Linked DNA regions of Homo sapiens: region 2 is linked to region 1. Evidence: fine-mapped expression QTL. A gene starts in region 1. The other region holds a variant in brackets. All regions are shown on one strand. Distances are between the middles of the regions. Region 1 holds the start of KBTBD11-AS1 (KBTBD11 antisense RNA 1). Region 2 has its middle 200 kb from the start of MIR7160.

Region 1 (9,416 bases):
CTCCCAGGCTCAAGCAATCCTCTCACTTCGGCCTCCTGAGTAGCTGGGACTACAGGTGCACGCCAGCACGCCCGGCTAATGTTTTGTATTTTTGTGGAGACAGGGTTTCTCCATGTTGCCCAGGCTGGTCTCCAACTCCTAGGCTCAGGCAATCTGCCCGCCTCAGCCTCCCAAAGTGCTGGGACCACAGATGTGAGTCACTGCCCCCGACCCTCAAAATATTTTAAATTGCAGCTAACTTGCTCTAACATTATTAATATATGCCTTGAAACTATTTTAAAGTAATGGTTGCCATCTTATTTCCTTTATTTTTCTGAAAAATGGTTACTAGGATTCCCCCTAATAAACGTACTGGCCATGTGGAGACAGCAGCGTTAATTCACTGGCAGAGCGTGTTGCCTGTGGGTAACCTGCAATCTGCTTGAGGGAACCACGTGCCCAGGCCCCTGCAGCCCCTGGGAGAGCCTGTCAGGGATGATGAGCAATGGGCATTTGGGCTCAACAGGCCTCACTCCTTCATTTAGTCAACAATTACCGAGCTTGGCTTCATGCCCTCACATTGCTGGGCCCAGGGGTACAAAACTAAAAAGCATGGCCTCCGTTTCCCTATTCGAATCAGGACAATTAGGGTATCATCTTAAACCTGGGACTGTCTGTAATTTAAAATTTGGGGTCCAGGCACGGTGGCTCACGCCTGTAATCCCAGCGCTTTGGGAGGCCGAGGTGGGTGGATCACCTCAGGTCAGGAGTTTGAGACCAGACTGACCAACGTGGTGAAACCCCATCTCTATTAAAAATAAAAAAAATTAGCCGGGCGTGGTGGCACACACCTGTAATCCCAACTACTCGGGAGTCTGAGGCAGGAGAATCACGTGAACCCGGAAGGTGGAGGTTGTAGTACGCTGAGATCACACCATTCCACTTCACACTGGGCAACAAGAGCGAAACTGTCTCAAAAAAATAAAATTTGGGGAATGACATGCTTAGCACATGGCCAATGCATGTTTGCTATCGATAGTCAATAGTGGACAATATCAAAGAGGACTTAGGAACACACTGTTTCCTTAATATGAGGGTCTCAGGCGCTGGCTGGTAACATAGGTGGAGAGACTGACATAAGGAAAGAGCTTCACAGTATTTAAGCAGCAGCTTGCGACAAAAACGCAATTGCACACAGTTCATCAGAGCTGAGGAAGCACTGAAGTAGGTAAGGTTCACCTAAGGGAGTGCCAGGGCCGGGTAAGGTTCACCTAAGGGAGTGCCAGGGCCGGGTAAGGTTCACCTAAGGGAGTGCCAAGGCCAAGACTACTTTTGTACAATATGCACAGAATTTTTTAATGAACCAGTGAGTGTTGTTTCAAAGCCAACACATATATTCTAATTATTTCTTCATGCCAAGAAGCTGGAAGTACTTTATAGCAATTGGCTCCATTCCTGACAGTTATTGGGATTTAACAGCTTTATTGGCTGGGGGAGGAACACATGAACTCCTAAGGGCTAATACAAGCATTTGGGAAATTATCTGTTGTCTGGCGTCAGCACTGGAACAGGGCAGCAGAGCTGGAGAGTAAGAAGCAGAGCTGGAGAGGAAGAAGTGTTTGCTAAGTCACCGCGCAGGAGGAGACAGAATCAGAGGTGACGAATGTAAGTCCACCCATTGGCTTAAGATCCAGTATCCTGAGTGAGTTGCACAGATCCTCTCCTTCAGTCCTCTCAGGTAGGTGCAGTGGTGTCTCCCTGGAGCACAGAGAGGCCAAGTATCTGGCTCCAAATCACAAGACTTGCAGAGGGTAAGGCTGGTGTCTAAGGTCCCATCAGTTGAACTCCAAAGCAGGCTGTCTAGAAATTGGGTTCAGAGACCTCCCAGCCTGGAACCCAGTTTGATGGAGTCCCGCATTCAGGGGCCAGTAAACCACTGTACCCTGGACAACTCCATAAGCTTCGGTTATATTTTTAGGGCGGTTTTGCATGTTGAAATATTTGCATGCTTCGAGTCTACCATGCATGATCAGGCTGTCCCTGACCAGGGGAAAATTTACATAGTAAAATAGTATTACCCTTGAAATAGATTTAAGATAGGTCCTCCTTTTTCTTGACAGTATTACAACCCAGTTCAATTTCAGGAACTCTAGAGGTCCCTGCAGTTATGAAGAACTAATTAAAGGCATGAAATGTTCCTCTGCAAGTTTCATTGACCATATTGGGCCTACAGTCCATTTCCAAATAAATATCTAAGGTAAGAAAAATATGGGACTCCCCACAGACTACTTATCTACCAGATGGTGTGGGGTTTGGATGGATGTTTTCAGTTACTTCAGCAATTTTTTCATTAATTCAGTATTTATTGAGAACCTAATGTATGCCAAGCTTGTAAAATGCAGTGGGGGGTATGACCTATTCCCAGGTCTCTGGACTCTGGCAGAATGGTAGAGAAGATGCTGTCGGGCTTGCATGTTCAGAACACCGTGTCTTAGGTGACCTCCCGGGCCTTTGGAGGCCCAACCCCAGGGTGGCGGGATAGCCAGGTGAGGCTTTGTTTGGCCTGTTCACGTTTCTCTGGAAAAGAATGGGGGTAGTTAGGCCAGGCGCGGTGGCTCATGCCTGTAATCCCAGCACTTTGGGAGGCCAAGACAGGTGGATCACTTGAGGTCAGGAGATCGAGACCAGCCTGGCCAATGTACAGTGAAACCCTGTCTCTACTAAAAATACAAAATTTAGCTGGGTGTGGTGGTGCATGCCTGTAGTCACAGCTACTTGGGAGGCTGAGGCAGGAGAATTGCTTGAACCCAGGACGCAGAGATCGCAGTGAGCCGAGATTGCACCACTGCATTCCAGCCTGGGCGACAGAGTGAGACTCCATCTCTAAAAAAAAACAAAAGAGAAAAAGAAGTATTATTCTGCAGCCGAAAGGAAGTAGAGATGCACTAAGAAGATCACAGTAGAGTTTGGAACATTTTTGGAGTAAACTGAACAAAATAAAAACGGAGCAGCATGGGAATTATTTTAGCTTCCACCAAAAGGGTCTGTTTCTGCTATAGTTAACGGAAGTTTTCAATTTTCAAAAAATCCCAGTAGCTCGCTGAGTTTCAGCCTCCTGTAATTCAAGTACTGACAGCAGGTACTACTCTTCTTGGCAACAGAGTGAAAAAGGTTTTAAAGATGTTCCCGGGGCGTTAGCTTTGGTGCTGGAGTTGTAACGGCTCATTATGTGTATACAGCATGGAACTGGCAAAGACTGTCACAAGCAAAAAGAACACAAAAAGAGAAAGTAAAGGCTCTGGCTCTCGGTACTTATGGAAATCTCATCGTCATTAATTTGCACAAAGCCATTAAAAATAGCATTTACCAGCAGGGGTCCAGCGTTAATTAGAACCCAGCCTGGGAGCAGCTGGAACTCTCGGCGCTCCTGGCTCAGTCCTCGCCGCCCTGAACCCGTCTGCACCGCAGGGCCCGAGTGGGAGGCAGAGGCCACATTTCTGGATATGAGCAAAAGCTCCGACATTTCGTCCACTCTCGTGTTGTGAACTTTAAAAAATTCTGGAATCTGTTGAGAATTTGGCAATAAGTTTTTAACCACTAAATATGTCAACAACGCATCGCCTCTACTTTTACCAAAAAATAGGCGCACGAAACTCCGCTGTTTGCGCCCGCGGACACCTGTCCCCGCCTCCTCGCAGGAAGCGGCCCCCGCGCGTGGGCGCGGGCTCGGGCTCGGGCTCGAGTGGCGACGTGGGCCGCGGTCCTGGAGGGGGAGAAGCGCCCGGCGGGCAGGCGCGGGGCAGGGAAGCCCCGGGGAACCCACAGCCCCTCCGCAGACCCAGCCAGGGGGCGCGCGCCCGAAAACGCCCCGTGTGCACGCGCCCGCCCCCCTCCCCGCGCCCCGCGCGCGCCCCTCGCAGCCTGGAGCCGGAGCGCTGGCTCCGCGCGGCCTGGAGAGGCGGAGAGGCCTGTCCACCGCCCCCTCTGCCGCCCACGCCCCGCTGCGGGTCGGAGGAGCAGCTCCCGCTCGCAGGTGCTCGGAGAGGCCGGGCCGCGGCTCCCACAGGTGCCGGGAAGCGGCCGCGCGCATGCGCCGGAGCCCACCCGCCTGGCTGCGCGTCCCGGGCCCGGCGGCTGAAGAGGAGCCGCGGCGAGGTAGGGCGGACCCCGGGGAGGCAGCGGCGGGGCCTGGCGGGCGGAGCGGGAAGCAGCCCGAGGCGCGGGTCGGAGGGGGCGGCGGGTGGGAGGTGGTCGGCGAGAGCGGCAGTAGGCGGGAGGGGAGAAAAGGGGAGGCCGGCAGGGGAGAGGCGGGGAGGGGAGGCCGGCAGGGGAGGGAGGGGAGCGGAGCGGAGGGGAGGGGAGGGGGGACCGGGAGAGGAGGGGGCAGCGCTGCCCGCGGCGGGGTGGGCGGCGGTGGGTGGTCTCCGCTCCGCCTCCGGGAGGCCGCGTGGGGGGCGTGGGGGCCTCCTCGCGGGGTCTCCACAGGCCCTCCCCCGGGACGCGGCAACCCCGGCCGGAAGACAATGAGCCGCCCGCGCCGCGCCCGCAGTCACCGCCCCCGCCGAGGGTCCCGCCGCCCCAGCCGGCACGGAAGCAGGAGCAGAAGCCGAAGCCAAGCGCGCGGGGCCAGGGCGGGGGCTCCTCCCGGGGTTGCTCCGCTTGGCTCTCGGCGGTCGCGGGGATCGGCTGTCCGGAGCGAACGGGGGTCTCTCCTGGACTCGGGGCCCTGGGGAGGGGAGCGCGGCCCTTGGTCCTCCGCCGCTGCGCCCGGGGTGCGGGGGTGTCCTGGCTGCTGACCCCCGCGAGCCCCGAGCACCGCGACCCACCCGCCCCACCGCGCCGCGGCTCCCGAGTCCTGCCGGGCGCCCCTTGCAGCCCCCGCCCCATGTGCTGGGGAGACCCCCGGGCGGTCTGGGCGGGATTCCGCAGGGGTCCCTCCTCTCAGGCGGGGCTCATTCTGGAGCATGAAAAGAGGGTGAACCAAAGTCCCTCCACCTCTTTAGAGTCCTACAAAACCACGTTTCCCCCTCCACCCACTCCAGTGTCTATTCTAAGGAAAAGAAAAGGAACAAATCAGTGCAGCGAGCTTTATTCTACTCAGCCCACGAAAGGCGCCGCCGTCAGATTTTAAAGTTCCAGCCATCCCCTCAGGCCCTGAGTGAGAAGTTCGCCCGATTCCCCGCGGTTCCCGCCTCCATTTCCCACTAAGGAGCAGTTACTCAGGCTCCAATTAGGACCCCTTAATGGATGTCAATGGAACCCTTCAGCCTTTTATCCTGAGCTAATAGTGTGCTATTATTAGAATAATCCTCCCCATTCCTGACATCACGGAAGGGAGCGTTCCATTGCCTTCAGATTTGCTCCAGCAACAACCTCGTGTGTGCAGATTTATGGTAACTGGCATTGCAATGCTCCCATCAGGGCATAACTAAGTAAAAATTGTAATGAGGTAAAGCCTTTGAACTTTCCATGTCAGTTGCACAGGCATTGCTGGCCATAGCATTGGACAGCACATAATAAAATCAGTTAAAAGATGTTGCTTACATTATAGTGATGTGTAGCACAGCCACGTTCGGATCAATTACAGACCGCCAAGTTGACGGTGGTCCTGTAAGATTATAAAACTGTTTTCCCTGTGTCTTTTTCATGCTTAGAAATGTGTAGATACACAAACACCATTGTGTTACAATTGCCTGCGGTATTGTGCACGCTGCACAGGTGTGCAGTCTGGAGCAGGAGTCTGTGCAGTGGAGCACAGGTGTGTAGCAGGCTGCACCGCCTAGGTGTGTAGGTGCCCTGTGTGATGTTTGCACAGTGATGAAGTTATCTAACTATCATTTCTCAGAACCTGTCTGCATCTGAACCATTCGTGACTGTATTTAAGCCAGCATTGGGCTTGGGAGGAGGGGAGAAAGCTTAAATGTTGTGGCTCTGAGACTAAAGAAATTCCCAGGGAGCAGGACTCTGTGTTGACTGATGTCTGGGCCTAACTTGAACCTCAGAGCACCTTGCTCTGGGTGGATGGAAGAATCCGGAAAGGTGGTTTGGAGCTTATCGCATCATTTGTAAACTCCAATACAAACCCGCTTCAATGGGGTTTCCATATGTTCCGGTACAGGTAGCAACCTTGGCAGTGGGAGCCCAGCAGGTCCCGTCTTTGTCCCTGTGCTGATACAGAGAGACTCTCCGTGCTGTGGACGCCTCCATCTGGGCACATGTTTCAGTTGTTTTCTAAATACCAAGAGCACAGATTGCTCAGTAATAATAGCTCTCCTGCAAATCTGGAATCACTTAGGCAGCTGCAGTGCCTCTAAGCCTCCTTGCATCCAAGGCTGTGATCAAGGAGGACTGGTGTCTGAGTGGGCTTGAGAAGGGCCCGGAGAACAGCGGGTTTCCTGATCACAAATCAGCCTGTCATTCAGCATGTGTTCCCTTGGTGACTCAGGGCGATATCTGCCCTTCTCCGGAGGTCAAGGGCTCATCGTGTCAATTGTGGTCTTGAGTTTGTTTTTTTTTTCCTCTTGAAATCATTGTAATTAAGCTAAAAGTATAGTGTTGGTATCCAGCACATGTTTGCAAAGTATTTAACAATGAGCAAAAACTTTAAGAATAAATTAAAGCATCTAGTTTACTTTTTGCCAACAGCCAGGTTCCTGCTAGAAATGATTTTGAAATAAATGTTGTCTTGGAAATAGAAACCGTTGCATGTCTTATGTGCATTTTGTTTGAAGGATTAGCATGAATTTCCTTCTCTTCTGAATATTTGTGGAGTTCCCCTGCTCCCCCACCCCCCACCCTGCTGTGGGTCAGGCTCAGTCCTAGGTGCTGGGAATACAGTTGTAAGTAAAGTCAGCCTAGTTCTCTGCTATCTGCAGCTGAGACGTTAATACAGTGAAAGGCATTCAGCATATAATTACGTTAATTCTTAGGTAATAACACACGGAGATGAGTGCGTTGAAGGAGAGGAATACATTCCCTTGAATGCACGTAACAGAGGAATGTTAGGCCGAGAACTAAGGGATGAGAGGGGTGGCTCAGGAGCCCAGGAGGGGACAGTTTGCGGGAACATTGTGTGCAAAGGCCCTGTGGTGAGGACTAGAGCACGGAGAGGTCAGTGAGGGGCGCTGGAGCAGGGTGTAGTAAAAGTGTAATGTCAGCCGATTTTATGGCTGAGTTAAATTGATGGAGCTTCACACTTTAGAGCAAGGTCCTCCAACCCATGGGCCACGAGCCACATGTGGCCCAGGACAGCTTTGAATGAGGCCCAACACAGATTTGTAAACTTTCTTAAAACATTATGAGTTTTTTTTTTTTTTAAGCTCATCATCTATCATTAGTGTTAGTCTATTTTATGTGTGACCCAAGACAATTCTTCCAGTGTGGCCCACGGAAGCCAAAAGATTGGAGACCCCTGCTTTAGAGCTTGACTGAGTTTCATATGGATTAATTTTGTAGCATGGAGACTTCCCGAGTCCTAAAGTGAAATCATTAAATAGGAAGATGCACATAGAATGTTTTGTAAATGAAAAACCACGGTGCCGATGTTAGCTGGTATTGTTACTGTTTTATTAGAAAGGTGTAGAGTCGTGGGGACATACATATGGGTGTGGTTCTATGAAGTGTACCATCTTTGTCCTGGCCACCTCCATCTCATGCTTGGACTCCTGCAGTAGTCTCTGGAGAGGCTCTGCACATCCTCTCTTTGAACAGGTCCTCCTGCAGTAGTCAGAACAATGATTTTTATTATTATTATTATATTTTGAGATGGAGTCTGGCTCTGTCATCCAGGCTGGAATCCAGTGGCACCATGTCAGCTCACGGCAACCTCCGCCTCCAGGGTTCAAGCAATTCTCATGTCTCAGTCTCTCGAGTAGCTGGGATTACAGGCGCCCTCCAGCACACCCAACTTATTTATTTATTTTTTTTTGTAGTTTTAGTAGAGATGGGGTCTCAGCATGTTAGCCAGGCTGGTCTCGAACTCCTGGCCTCAAGTGATCTTCCTGCCTTGGCCTCCCAAAGTGCTGGGATTACAGGCATGAACCACCACTCCCAGCTCAGAGCAATTATTTTTTAAAATTCTTACAATAGTGGGCCTTTCATAGCTTCCCATTCCTGCAAGATGCAGTTCACAGTTCTGAATATTCGTATCACGACCCTTGTTCCAATATCATGGTGGTTCAATAAGCCATGCACAGCTTAGTGGCTTAAAACAATAGCATTTATTTATATTTTAAGTTGCAGGGTACATGTGCGGGAGGTGCAGTTTTGTTACATAGGTAAACGTGTGCCATGGTGGTTTGTTGCACCTGTCAACCCATCACCTAGGTATTAAGCCCAGCAGGCATTAGCTCTTTATCCTGATGCTCTCCCTCCGCCGCCCTCTACAGGCCCCAGTGTGTGTTGTTCCCCTCCCTGAGTCCATGTGTTCTCATCATTCAGCTCCCACTTATAAGTGAGAACGTGGTGTTTGGTTTTCTGTTCCTGTATTCGTAGCAATAGCATTCATTTTGCTTAAAAGTCTGCAGTCTCGCTGGGCACAGCTCACCTTGGTGCCACTCAGCACCAGATGCGGAGCTTGAAGGCCAAGGGCTGGAACCATGGAGGCCACTGACTTGCTGCCTGAGGCTTGCGCCAGGAGGATTCACACACTGGGGGCTGGCGCAGCAGGGGCCCCTCGGGGACCTTCCCCTGTCACTGTGTGACCGTCCATGTACTCGCTGCAGCGTGGCAGCCTTGATGCAGTGGACTCCCTGTGTGTTGAGTCAGGGTCACCACGGACTGTGACCTGAGAAAACAGCCAGGTGGAACCGGGTCACCTTTCTCACGAGGCGGGGAGGTCATGTTGTGTTGCTTCCCCCTCAGTCCCTGGCCTGCCACGTAGAAGGGGAGGGAACGGGGTCTCAACTGTGAGCGCAGGGGAATCTCACTGGGCGGGATGGGCGTGCCGAGCAGGGTTCATCCATGCGGCATGTTTGGAAAATAGAATCTGCTCTTTCCACTAAGGTCATGTCCCTTCCACATAAAAAAGGCTACGGCGATCCCCAAGTCTCATCCTGTTGTGGCATCAAGACTTGGGCTCCAGGAAGTCATCATGGAAGTCAGGTGTGAAAGTGCCTCCCTGGGTTCCAGTCCTTCCTCTAATGCAAAGGCTGGTGTTCCAAAGCAATGAGAGACCCACCCCCAGCCCACAGTGCACAGCCCTGGGCAGGCACAGGAGAACTGCTGTAGGCCCTCGTGCTGGTCAGGGTTCTCCAGGGAAACACAACCAACTGGGTACATGTGTGTGCATGTGTGTGCATGTGTCTGCACGTGTGAGAGGGATTAGAGAGCAAGATTGAAGGACCTGGCTCATCCGATGGTGGTGGGGCAAGTCTGAGATCTGCAGGGCAGGCCGGCAGGCTGGATAGCCAGGGAAGTGCTGGCATTGCAGTCCCTCC
Region 2 (9,416 bases), 300 kb after region 1:
TCGGAAGATCTGAGATTCTCTCCGTAAGCAACCACTCAGTAAGGTGGCAGGACCTTTCCTGGCTTCAGTTTCTTCACCCCTAAAACAAACATGGCACTTCACGGATGACAGTGGGAGGACAGGTGTCTTAGTATTTCCATGGGAAGTGGAGGAGGATCCTTTAAGGAGCCCATTGGGTGATAGCATCTCCTTGTTGTCTGTTGGTCTTGGTCCCCATGTTTAAAGTATTTTGGAGCTTTGACTAGCGTGCGCAAGGGATGCTGCCCATGTCTCTAACGAGGGCATGGGGTTTGTCCGTTTCTCTAATGAGGGCATGGGGTTTGTGGCATGGAGGGGCTTCTCTGCTTCTGAGGTCCTGCATTGCTCAGGCAGGCCCTGGCTTGAATGGGGAGGCTGGCGTGAAGTGAGAAGGCCCCAGGGAAACCCTTCTTAGAAACATCATCCATCCTGGGTCCTTCCAGTGAGGAGGCTTACCTCTCTAAAAATTCAGATTTGCCGAAAAAGTCATGATTCTTCTTCCTTAACTAACTTTAAAATGGAAAACTCTCTCCCTACCATCGCGCTGGGCCTCACTTGCAGTGAATGCCACGGGGTGACGTAGGTTTTCTGATTCTCCTAATCTGTAAGGGCGGCTTTCGCACAGGCTCCCTCTCCATCCTTTCTCGTTAAAGGCGCTCCATAAAGCAGCTTGCACACATGTTTAAACAGTTCATTGTCAATAACTTTAACCTCCCGCAAAAGCCAAATACAATGGTAATGTGGCTGTGCCTGCCTATTACAAAAGAAACCCAAGACTTAATTTCTAATCTGCAGAGGAAAATCTTTCCAGCCGTCCTCATTTGGCGGGCTTGTGGGTCTCTGTACGCGTGAAAACAGCGAGAAAATGGCAGTGGAGACATTTGTCATCTGCAGAGTAAAAATATATTGCTTTTTGTCAGGAATGTACTGGTGATGTCTGCGGGGGTGGAGAGAGAATGCATCAGTTGTGGCAGCAGGCCTTTGGGGTGGTGCAGAGGGAGAATGCCATGACCTCAGACATCTGCTCTTCCATGCCACTGGGCACGTGGTTGTGGAATGCGTCCTCAACTGGCCTTTTGCTGTTTTCTCCCAAATTTCATACCATGAGTCTTCATCTCAGGCTCCTCTTCGTTGATTTGAAGCCCCTAGTCCGTCTCCAGTTTTATTTCATTACAAGACAACATCAGCCTCTGGATCTGCTGTGATGTCCTCCCTCTGCTCCCTACATCTGTCTATCCTGCTCCCTGGAGGGGACGTCCCTCACATTTCCCAAAGTCTTACTCCACACCACCAGCTCAGGCTGAACTAGCTTAGAGAGTTTATTCCATTTGCCCCAAATACTGCCCTTTGGAACCCGCCAACGATCCATGTGTGCTTCAGATAGCCTCGTCCAGGCAGGAGTAGCTTTCTGAAATTTAAATTTTTATCTATTTACAAACATTTTTATGTGTAACAAAAAGTAAAAATGTGCCTAACAAGTATAATTAACCCTGAAATGGAAAAAAAAAAAAAAGAATATAAAGTATATCAAGGGTATCCACAGAGGAGGTAGTACTTTGGGTGGAAAGAGCATGGTTTTGAGGTTTGGATACATTTTGTCTGAGAATTTTGTTATATTGTTGAAATATGACATTTAACATTTGGTGTGGGTAATACTGACTTTAGAGGGTGCGTTGAAGCTTGATTAATGTGATCAGTGTCACTGGACCCTAGCATGTCCTTGTGTGTGTATCTATGTACAGGAATACACCATGCTTAATATAATCAGTGTAACTAGATTCTAGCATGTCCTTGTGTTTGTATCTATGTACAGGAATACACCATGGTTAATATAATCAGTGTAACTAGATTCTAGTTTGTCCTTGTGTGTGTATATATATGTACAGGCATACACCATGGTTAATATAATCAGTGTAATTAGACTCTAGCATGTCCTTGTGTATGTATATATGTACACGCGTACACCCATGGTCAATGTAATCAGTGTAACTGGACTCTAGCATGTCATAGTGTGTGTATATATACATATATATATATATGTATATATACACACACACGCATACACCCGTGATTAATGTATTAATGTAATCAGTGTAGCTGGACTCTAGCATGTCTGTGCATGTGTGTGTGTGTGTGTGTGTGTCTATGTACTCACATATACCCATTGATATGGTTTAGCTCTGTGGCCCACTCAAATTTCATCTTGAATTGCAATCCCCACATGCCGAGGGAGGGAGGTGATTGGATCGTGGAGGTGGTTTCCGCCATGCTGTTCTTGTGATGATGAGTGAGTCTCATGAGATCTGGTGATTTCATGAGCGTCTAGCATTTCCCCTGCTTGCATTTCTCTCTCCTGCCACCCTGTGAGTAAGGTGCCTTGCTTCCCTTTCACCTTCTGCCATGATTGTAAGTTTCCTGAGGCCTCCCCAGCCATGTGGAACTATGAGTCAAATAAACCATCTTCCTTTATAAATTACCGAGTCTCGGGCATTTTTTATAGCAGTGTGGAAACGGACTAATACACCCATGATTAATGTAATCAGCATAAGTGGATTCTAGCATGTACTTATGTGTGCATGTATGTACATGCATGTACCCATGATTAATGTAGTTCAACTAGACTTTATCATGTATACGTCCTTGTGTGTATACCTGCACAGGTGTGTTTATGTATATGTGTATATGTGCATTTGTGTATATAAATCTGTGTATAAGTGATTTGAAGATTAAATGTAAGCAGACATGGAGAAAAAGCACAGCTATCCAGCAACATGCCCCTGGCGTGTGTAGTCAGGCAGTCAGTGCTATCTGCTGTGAGGTACTTGTGTAGCAGGCGGGATAATATGATACAGAATATGGATGGATGCTCGGCTGTGTGTTGCCAAGCTAATCTCCTCTGCCTTGACTTTTTCCTTTCCTCCTCCCTCCTTCCCCTTGGAGTCATCTTGTTGACTATGGACTACAGAGTTATGTGTAAGTGGCTTCAGTGGGGAGCAAACAGGACAGCTCTGTTTGCCTTCGCCTCCCGAGGAGAACCTTTTCTGCACATCTGGTTTCCCCTTCACTATGTGATGCAGGGAAATTCCGGAAAATGCAGATGGAGAAAGTGCATCCACGAAGCTTCCACAGCTATGTGTATGTGTGTGCCCTACACATGTGCTTGCGTTTGAACCATGGGGTCTCTCGGGCTTACGATCAACTTGCCAAAAACTTTAGATCTCATTGAAAGCATGTGCCCTTTCACCCGTGAGCTAAACCTTGGGGAATCACACAGACTTTAACTAACCTAAGTGATTGAATACCTCTCGTTCATTTGGTTAGTGGACATGCTCATAGGGTGCAGGCCACTACCCTGGAGACACTTTCCGAATGGGAAACAGAAAACAGATGTGAGTCACACACACACAAAAGTTACCTCTGGAAAAATAGGATGGATTCTGTTTCCTCTCCTTCTAAAAGACTGTATTTAAACTGGTTCTGGTTAGTAAAGACAACATAAATATCTTTTCCTAAAATCTGTACCAAATTACTTCACTGAGAAGTCTCTGAGGATGTGCAGCCAGGACCGCAGGTCATATATTTTAGCCGCGTTGGGTCACTCACCTGGAGAGCCTGTCCTCAGCCCCCGGCCTCGCCCCACAGAGGCTGATTCGCTGGGCGGGTGGATCCGCTCGTTCTGTTTCTGATTAACTCGCGGGTCATGAGGCTGCTGTTGCAGGGAGATCCAGAGCTGGAAAACACCGCTATAGACCAGCACAACTTCACATTTTGGTCTACATGGATCATTTTGAGAGTATGATTAAACATCTAATCTCCAATTAAAAAGAAATCCATGTGTATACCTCTTTCCAAAATATCCCATATATATTCAGAAATAAGGGCTTTTTAATACAAAATCACTTAATTCTTCCAAACGTCGTTATCTGTGCCACCTACAGTTGCAACCACGTTCAAGGTAGAGACTGACTAGCTTGATACAATGGATGTTTAGGATTATCTCTTGCAGGGAAAATGGAGAAAATAAGCTTTTTTAATATTGCTCTTTAAACCTAGATATGTTGGCCATTTTAGGGTTTACTTACATGATGTAAAAAGTACCTACCAGGGCAATAGTTTTAAAACCCTTATTTCCAAAGCTTATAAATGCTTCTGTGGGTTCTACCTTAATTGTTATAAACAGCCTTTTCTCCATCTCTCATTCACTCTGCTTCAGGCCTGCCCATGTCTCAGCTCTGTCCAGCTTGAATTAAACTGTTGTTTAGGTTGGGAAGTGTTAATGAGTCCCTAACACTTCTCAGCTGTCCAGTCTCAGCTCAAAATAGCTTCCTCACCAGACATCTCTTTAGGGGCTGACCGTCTGCAGGCCTCATCTGGCCCAAATATGTATTGTCAGCCCACAGAGGCGTGTGGTTTAGGTGCTGGCTGGTTTGAGAAGTAACCTGAACATGATGTTGGCTAGGCATACACTTGGTTTTGCCACAGTCTTCGCTATCCCCTACTGGCCAGCCTGGCCGATTCATCCCTTTATGTTAGTGCTGGGCCTTTCCTGAGTAGCTCCGGTTGACTTCTAAAAGTA[A/G]TGTTAATTCAATCTCCCTTTCTGTCTTTACCTACCTATCTGGTGACTATTTATACACACTACATCTAGTAAATATACTAAATAACTATGTATAGTGCACCAAATGTTTTGGATTAATATTAGCTCCTTTTCCCTTGGAACGTGATTCTTCCTTCTTAATACCCGGATTTATTTCTAGGGTGTTTACATCATTCGAATAATTTTGTTTAAATCATTTAATTTAAATAATTAATTGTAAAACATTTAAATTACGTATACTGGCTGGGAGCAGTGGTTCACGCCTGTAATCCTAGGACATTGGGAGACTGAGGCTGGCAGTTTGCTCGAACCCAGGGGTTCAAGGCCAGCCTGGGCATCATGGAAATGGCCTGTCTGGCCGGGCGTGTTGGCTCATGGGTGTAACCCCAGCACTGTGGGAGGCCGAGGCGGATGGATCACCTGAGATCAGGAGTTTTGACCAGCCTGACCAACATGGTTAAACCCCATCTCTACTAAAAGTACAAAAACCAGCTGCGTGTGGTGGCACACACCTGTAATCCCAGCTACTCGGGAAGCTGAGGCATGATAATCGTTTGAACCCAGGAGGCGAAGGTTGTGGTGAGCCAAGATTGCACCCCTGCACTCCAGCCTTGGTGACAAGCAACACTCTGTCAAAAAAAAAAAAAAAAAAAACACACTTCACCTTTACAAAAAATACAAAAATTAGCTGGGCGTGGTGGCACTCGCCCGTAGTCTCAGCTACTCAGGAGGCTGAGGAGGAAGGATAGCTTGAGCCCACGAGGTTGAGGCTTCAGTGAGGTGTGATGGTGCCACTACACTCCAGCCTGGGCAACAGAGCGAGACCCTGTCTCAAAAAACAAAAATAAGAAAATAAATGATATGTACTGAATACCACTCCATCCTAACAATGAAGCACATCTTACTCACCGCTGTATAACATAACGTGAGGGTGTCATCTCCACTCTAAGAAATAAGGGAAAAGAGGCAGTAAACTTTTGGAGAATTCTCAGGTGAAATCCCAGGTAAAATTTCATTATTGTCATTGTACTTGTAAAAAATACTTAAGGCCGGGCATGGTGGCTCACGCCTATAATCTCAGCACTTTGGGAGGCCCAGGCAGGTGGATTACTTGAGGCCAGGAGTTCAGGATCCACCTGGGCAACATAGTAAGACCCTGTCTCTACTAAAAAAAAATACAAAAATTAACCAGTCATGGTGGCCGGTGCCTGTAGTCCCAGCTACTTGGGAGACTGAGGCAGGAGAATTGCTTGAACCCAGGAGGTGGAGGTTGCAGTGAGCCGAGATCAGGCATCTGCACTCCAGCCTGGGCAACAGAGCAAGACTCCACCTCAAAAAAGACAAAAAAAAAAAAAAAAACTATAACAAATCATGAGCTCTAAACAATTTTAGAGTAAGTAACATAAATCTGTATCCATATGAAAAGCACTTGTTCAGTTTGGCCTAGGGTCTATAGTGGGGGTCTTGTCCTCGAAGAGGGCATGCGCTCTGGGGACAGCTGGATGACCTGAGCAGTAAAGGAGACGAGGACAGAGGGCGCTGTGAGTGCCGGGCCCAGGGACTGACTCCCCATTCTTGAGTCCAATGTGCTTTTGTTCTGCCCAGCTCTTGGAAGACTCGGCCCCCCAGAGTCTTGGCAGTGTGGATGTGACAGGGTCCCCAGCGGGACATGGGCACAGGAAGAGCTGGGGGAGGGTCCCCAAGCATGGGCTTTCCCATCAGGGAGCCAACAGAGCAAAATGTTTGGAGCGTGACAAAATGTTAACATTTAAAATACATTAATAAGATGGCGACAACTTGCTATGGTCTGAGGGTTTGTGTCACCCCCAGATTCCATGTTGAATCTTAATCACCAAAGTGATGGTACTAGGAGAGGGACTTGGGGGTGATTAGGTCGTGGGATTAGTGCCCTTATAGAAGGGACCCCAGAGGGCTGCTGTGATACAATAAGAAATCTATACTTGATCTCTGCCCCCCAGTTCCTGGCACAGAGCTCTACAACCCTCGGAATTTTCTGAGTGAGAGGAACGTCTTTTGTTCTCATGAAGCAACTCTTGGTGGCTCCTAGATGGGCCTGGTCACCAGAAAGACCAAGCCGTGATTAGAAGTTTGGAGTTTTCAAGCCTGGGCAATATGGAGAGACCCCATCTCTACAAACAAACAAACAAACAAAAATTAGCTGGATGTGGTGGCTCATGCCTTTAATACCAGCACTTTGGGAGGTTGAGGCAAGAGGATCGCTTGAGTCTAGGAGTTCAAGACCAGCCGGGGCAACATAGTGAGACCCCAGTTCTACAAAAACTTTAAAAAAAAAAAGCCACCTATTGCACACCTATAGTTCCAGAAGCTAAAGTGGGAGGGTCACTCGAGCCCAAGAGGTTGGCACTGCAGTGAGTTATGATCGTGTCACTACACTACATCCTGGGTGACACAGAAAGTCCCTGTCTCAAAAAATAAAGAAACAGAGAAAACCAAATAAAAACACTTAAGAAGCTGCTGAGCACAGCTGCATGGCAGGAGGGTGGAGCACCCCAACTCCATGGGGCCAGATGCTCCTGTGCTTGGGACCTTCAAGACCCCGCTCTCTCCATCGCTTCATCTGCCTGTTCTTCTGTGTCCTTTATTATAACCTTATTAACAAACCATCAAATGTAAGTATAGTGTTTTGCTGAGTTCTGTGAGCTGCTCTAGCAAATGAATTGACCTCAAGAAGGGGGTGCTGGGAGCCCGATTTGCGGCCATTCAGTCAGAAGCGTGGTGGCTGGTATCTGACGTGGGGACCGTCTTATGGGACAGGGTCCTTTAACCCGTGGGATCTGATCCTCTCTCTAGGTAGACAGGGTCAGAGTGAAGTTGAATTACAGGACACCCAGCTGGTGTCCTCTGGAGAATTGTTTGGTATGTTGGATTTAGTGAGACAAGATATAGGAAAGTGTTTTTTATTTTTTGGAGACAGGGTCTCATTCTGTCACTCAGGCTGGAATGTAGTGGCACAATCATTGCTCACTGCAGCCTCGAACTCCTAGGCTCAAGGAATCCTCTCACCTCAGCCTCCCAACAAACAGGGACCACAGGTGCACACCTCCAAGTCCTGCTAATTTTCATATGTTTTGTAGAGATGGGGTCTTACTATGTTGCCTAAGTGGATCCTCAACTCCTGGCCTTAAGTGATCCACCCGCCTGGGCCTCCCAAAGTGCTGAGATTACAGGTGTGAGTCACTGCGCCTGGCCCAGGAAAGTGTTTGACACAACGTCTGATACCTACTCAATGAGCAATTGGTTCAAACATAGTTTTGACTAAAATAACTCCTGTGGAAATAAATATTGCTTTCTCAAGGGTATTCCAACTATTCTGTCTTCAGTCAATTCTTCTTCCCCATTTCCCTCTCCTCCTCCACTTCCTTCTCCTCCATTTCTTTATTTAACAGTGGCTCCAATTGTGAAACTTCCATTTGTGCCCCCTTGAGAAATGAGGCAGAGAAAATCCCAAGGAGGTGCTCTTCTCCCACCCGGACACCCCTGATCCCAAGGAGATGCTCCACTCCCACCCAGCTTCTGGATTAAGGATTTAGGGCAGCATACTTTCATCAATGACTTCTGAAGGTCACGTTTGTTCAGGACGTTCTGAAGACATTTCTGATAGTGTACCATCTTTATAGACGTTGCTCCCTACTACGACAAATCTGTTGAGAAATTAAATGAAGGAGCCCCTTCTGTGCTCTTTAATTTCCCAATGCAATAGTAAATGTGAGAGTGCCTTACAACCATGAAGCAATTCAGCCTGACTTTTGGTGATTACAAGGAAAAGGTTGGAAAGAGCTCTTAGTGTTTAATATTTAAAAACAAATATGTGTTGTATATTGACGAATTATAGTTGTATGTACTTATGGGTAAAAAGTGGTGTTATGCGCTTTATAGACAATTTAGAATGTATTCAGCATGCTGTGCTATGGATCTAAAAAATATCAGACTTTTCCTCTGATCTCACTGAAGCTTTGTGTCTTTGACTGTCATGTCTGTGTTTTCCCAGGCGTCAGCCTCTGCAGCCACCATTCCCCTCTCTGCTGCTCCGAGTTCAATTGTTTTAATTCCACAAGTAAGTGAGGATATGCTGTGCTTGTCTTTCTGCGTTTGGCTTATTTCACTCAGCATAATGTTCTACAATTCCATCCATGTTGTCACAAATAACAGAATTTCTTTTCTTTTTAGGGGCTGGATAATACTCCATTGTGTGTATAAACTACAGTTTCCTTATCCATTTGTCCCTTAATGGACACTTAGACTGATTTCATAACTTGGCTATTGTGAATCATGCTGCAATGAACTTAGGAGTGCAGATATCTCTTGGACCCATTGATTTCAAATCTTTAACACCCAGAAGTGGGGTTGATGGATCTCTTACTTAATGTTTTTGTTCCATTTAACATGGATGTCCCTCTAACTCTTCTAAAGAATGTCACAGATGATCTCAGTTGGGCTAGAGTTTTTCTTGACTTCATACTTTGCATTCTTCTGGCCTTAATGCATTTTGGAAAGGAGCCAGTTGTTTAGAAATGTGCTCCTGCTTTTCTAACCTATGTTCAAAAAAGAGTAAGCTTCCCCTGCACCCATGGCTGTGAATCTGTGGGACTGTCGACAGTCAGGCACTGAGGATGAAGAACTGGAAGATTCTGCACATCCCAGGCCATTCTTGATGTTAGCTTTTCCCATATGTGATGCTGTAGCGTGGGAAGGAACGGGAAATTTCTCCTACTTGCTTCCAGTTACAGGAGAATTCCTTTTCAGCAGCTCAACAAAGGCCTGC

What was found.
Region 2: its variant is fine-mapped to the expression of KBTBD11-AS1 in minor salivary gland (GTEx, PIP above 0.99).

Annotation. Positions count from the first base shown.
Region 1 is chr8:1,969,802-1,979,217 of GRCh38, forward strand. KBTBD11-AS1 (KBTBD11 antisense RNA 1) reads right to left here and starts at 3,544. Exons shown (of 3, transcript NR_136275.1): 1 at 3,347-3,544; 2 at 2,739-2,862; 3 at 1,378-2,556. It overlaps KBTBD11 (kelch repeat and BTB domain containing 11), which reads left to right and starts at 3,876. Exons shown (of 2, transcript NM_014867.3): 1 at 3,876-4,134. KBTBD11-OT1 (KBTBD11 overlapping transcript 1) reads left to right here and starts at 1,596. Exons shown (of 3, transcript NR_126346.1): 1 at 1,596-1,717; 2 at 2,124-2,236; 3 at 6,098-6,643. RefSeq lists enhancers at 8,186-8,745, 8,746-9,304.
Region 2 is chr8:2,271,970-2,281,385 of GRCh38, forward strand. No RefSeq gene overlaps it. Among named protein-coding and RNA genes, the nearest start is that of MIR7160, 200 kb to the left of the region's middle. RefSeq lists a silencer at 6,785-6,962. The variant A/G (reference allele first, on the strand shown) is at 4,595.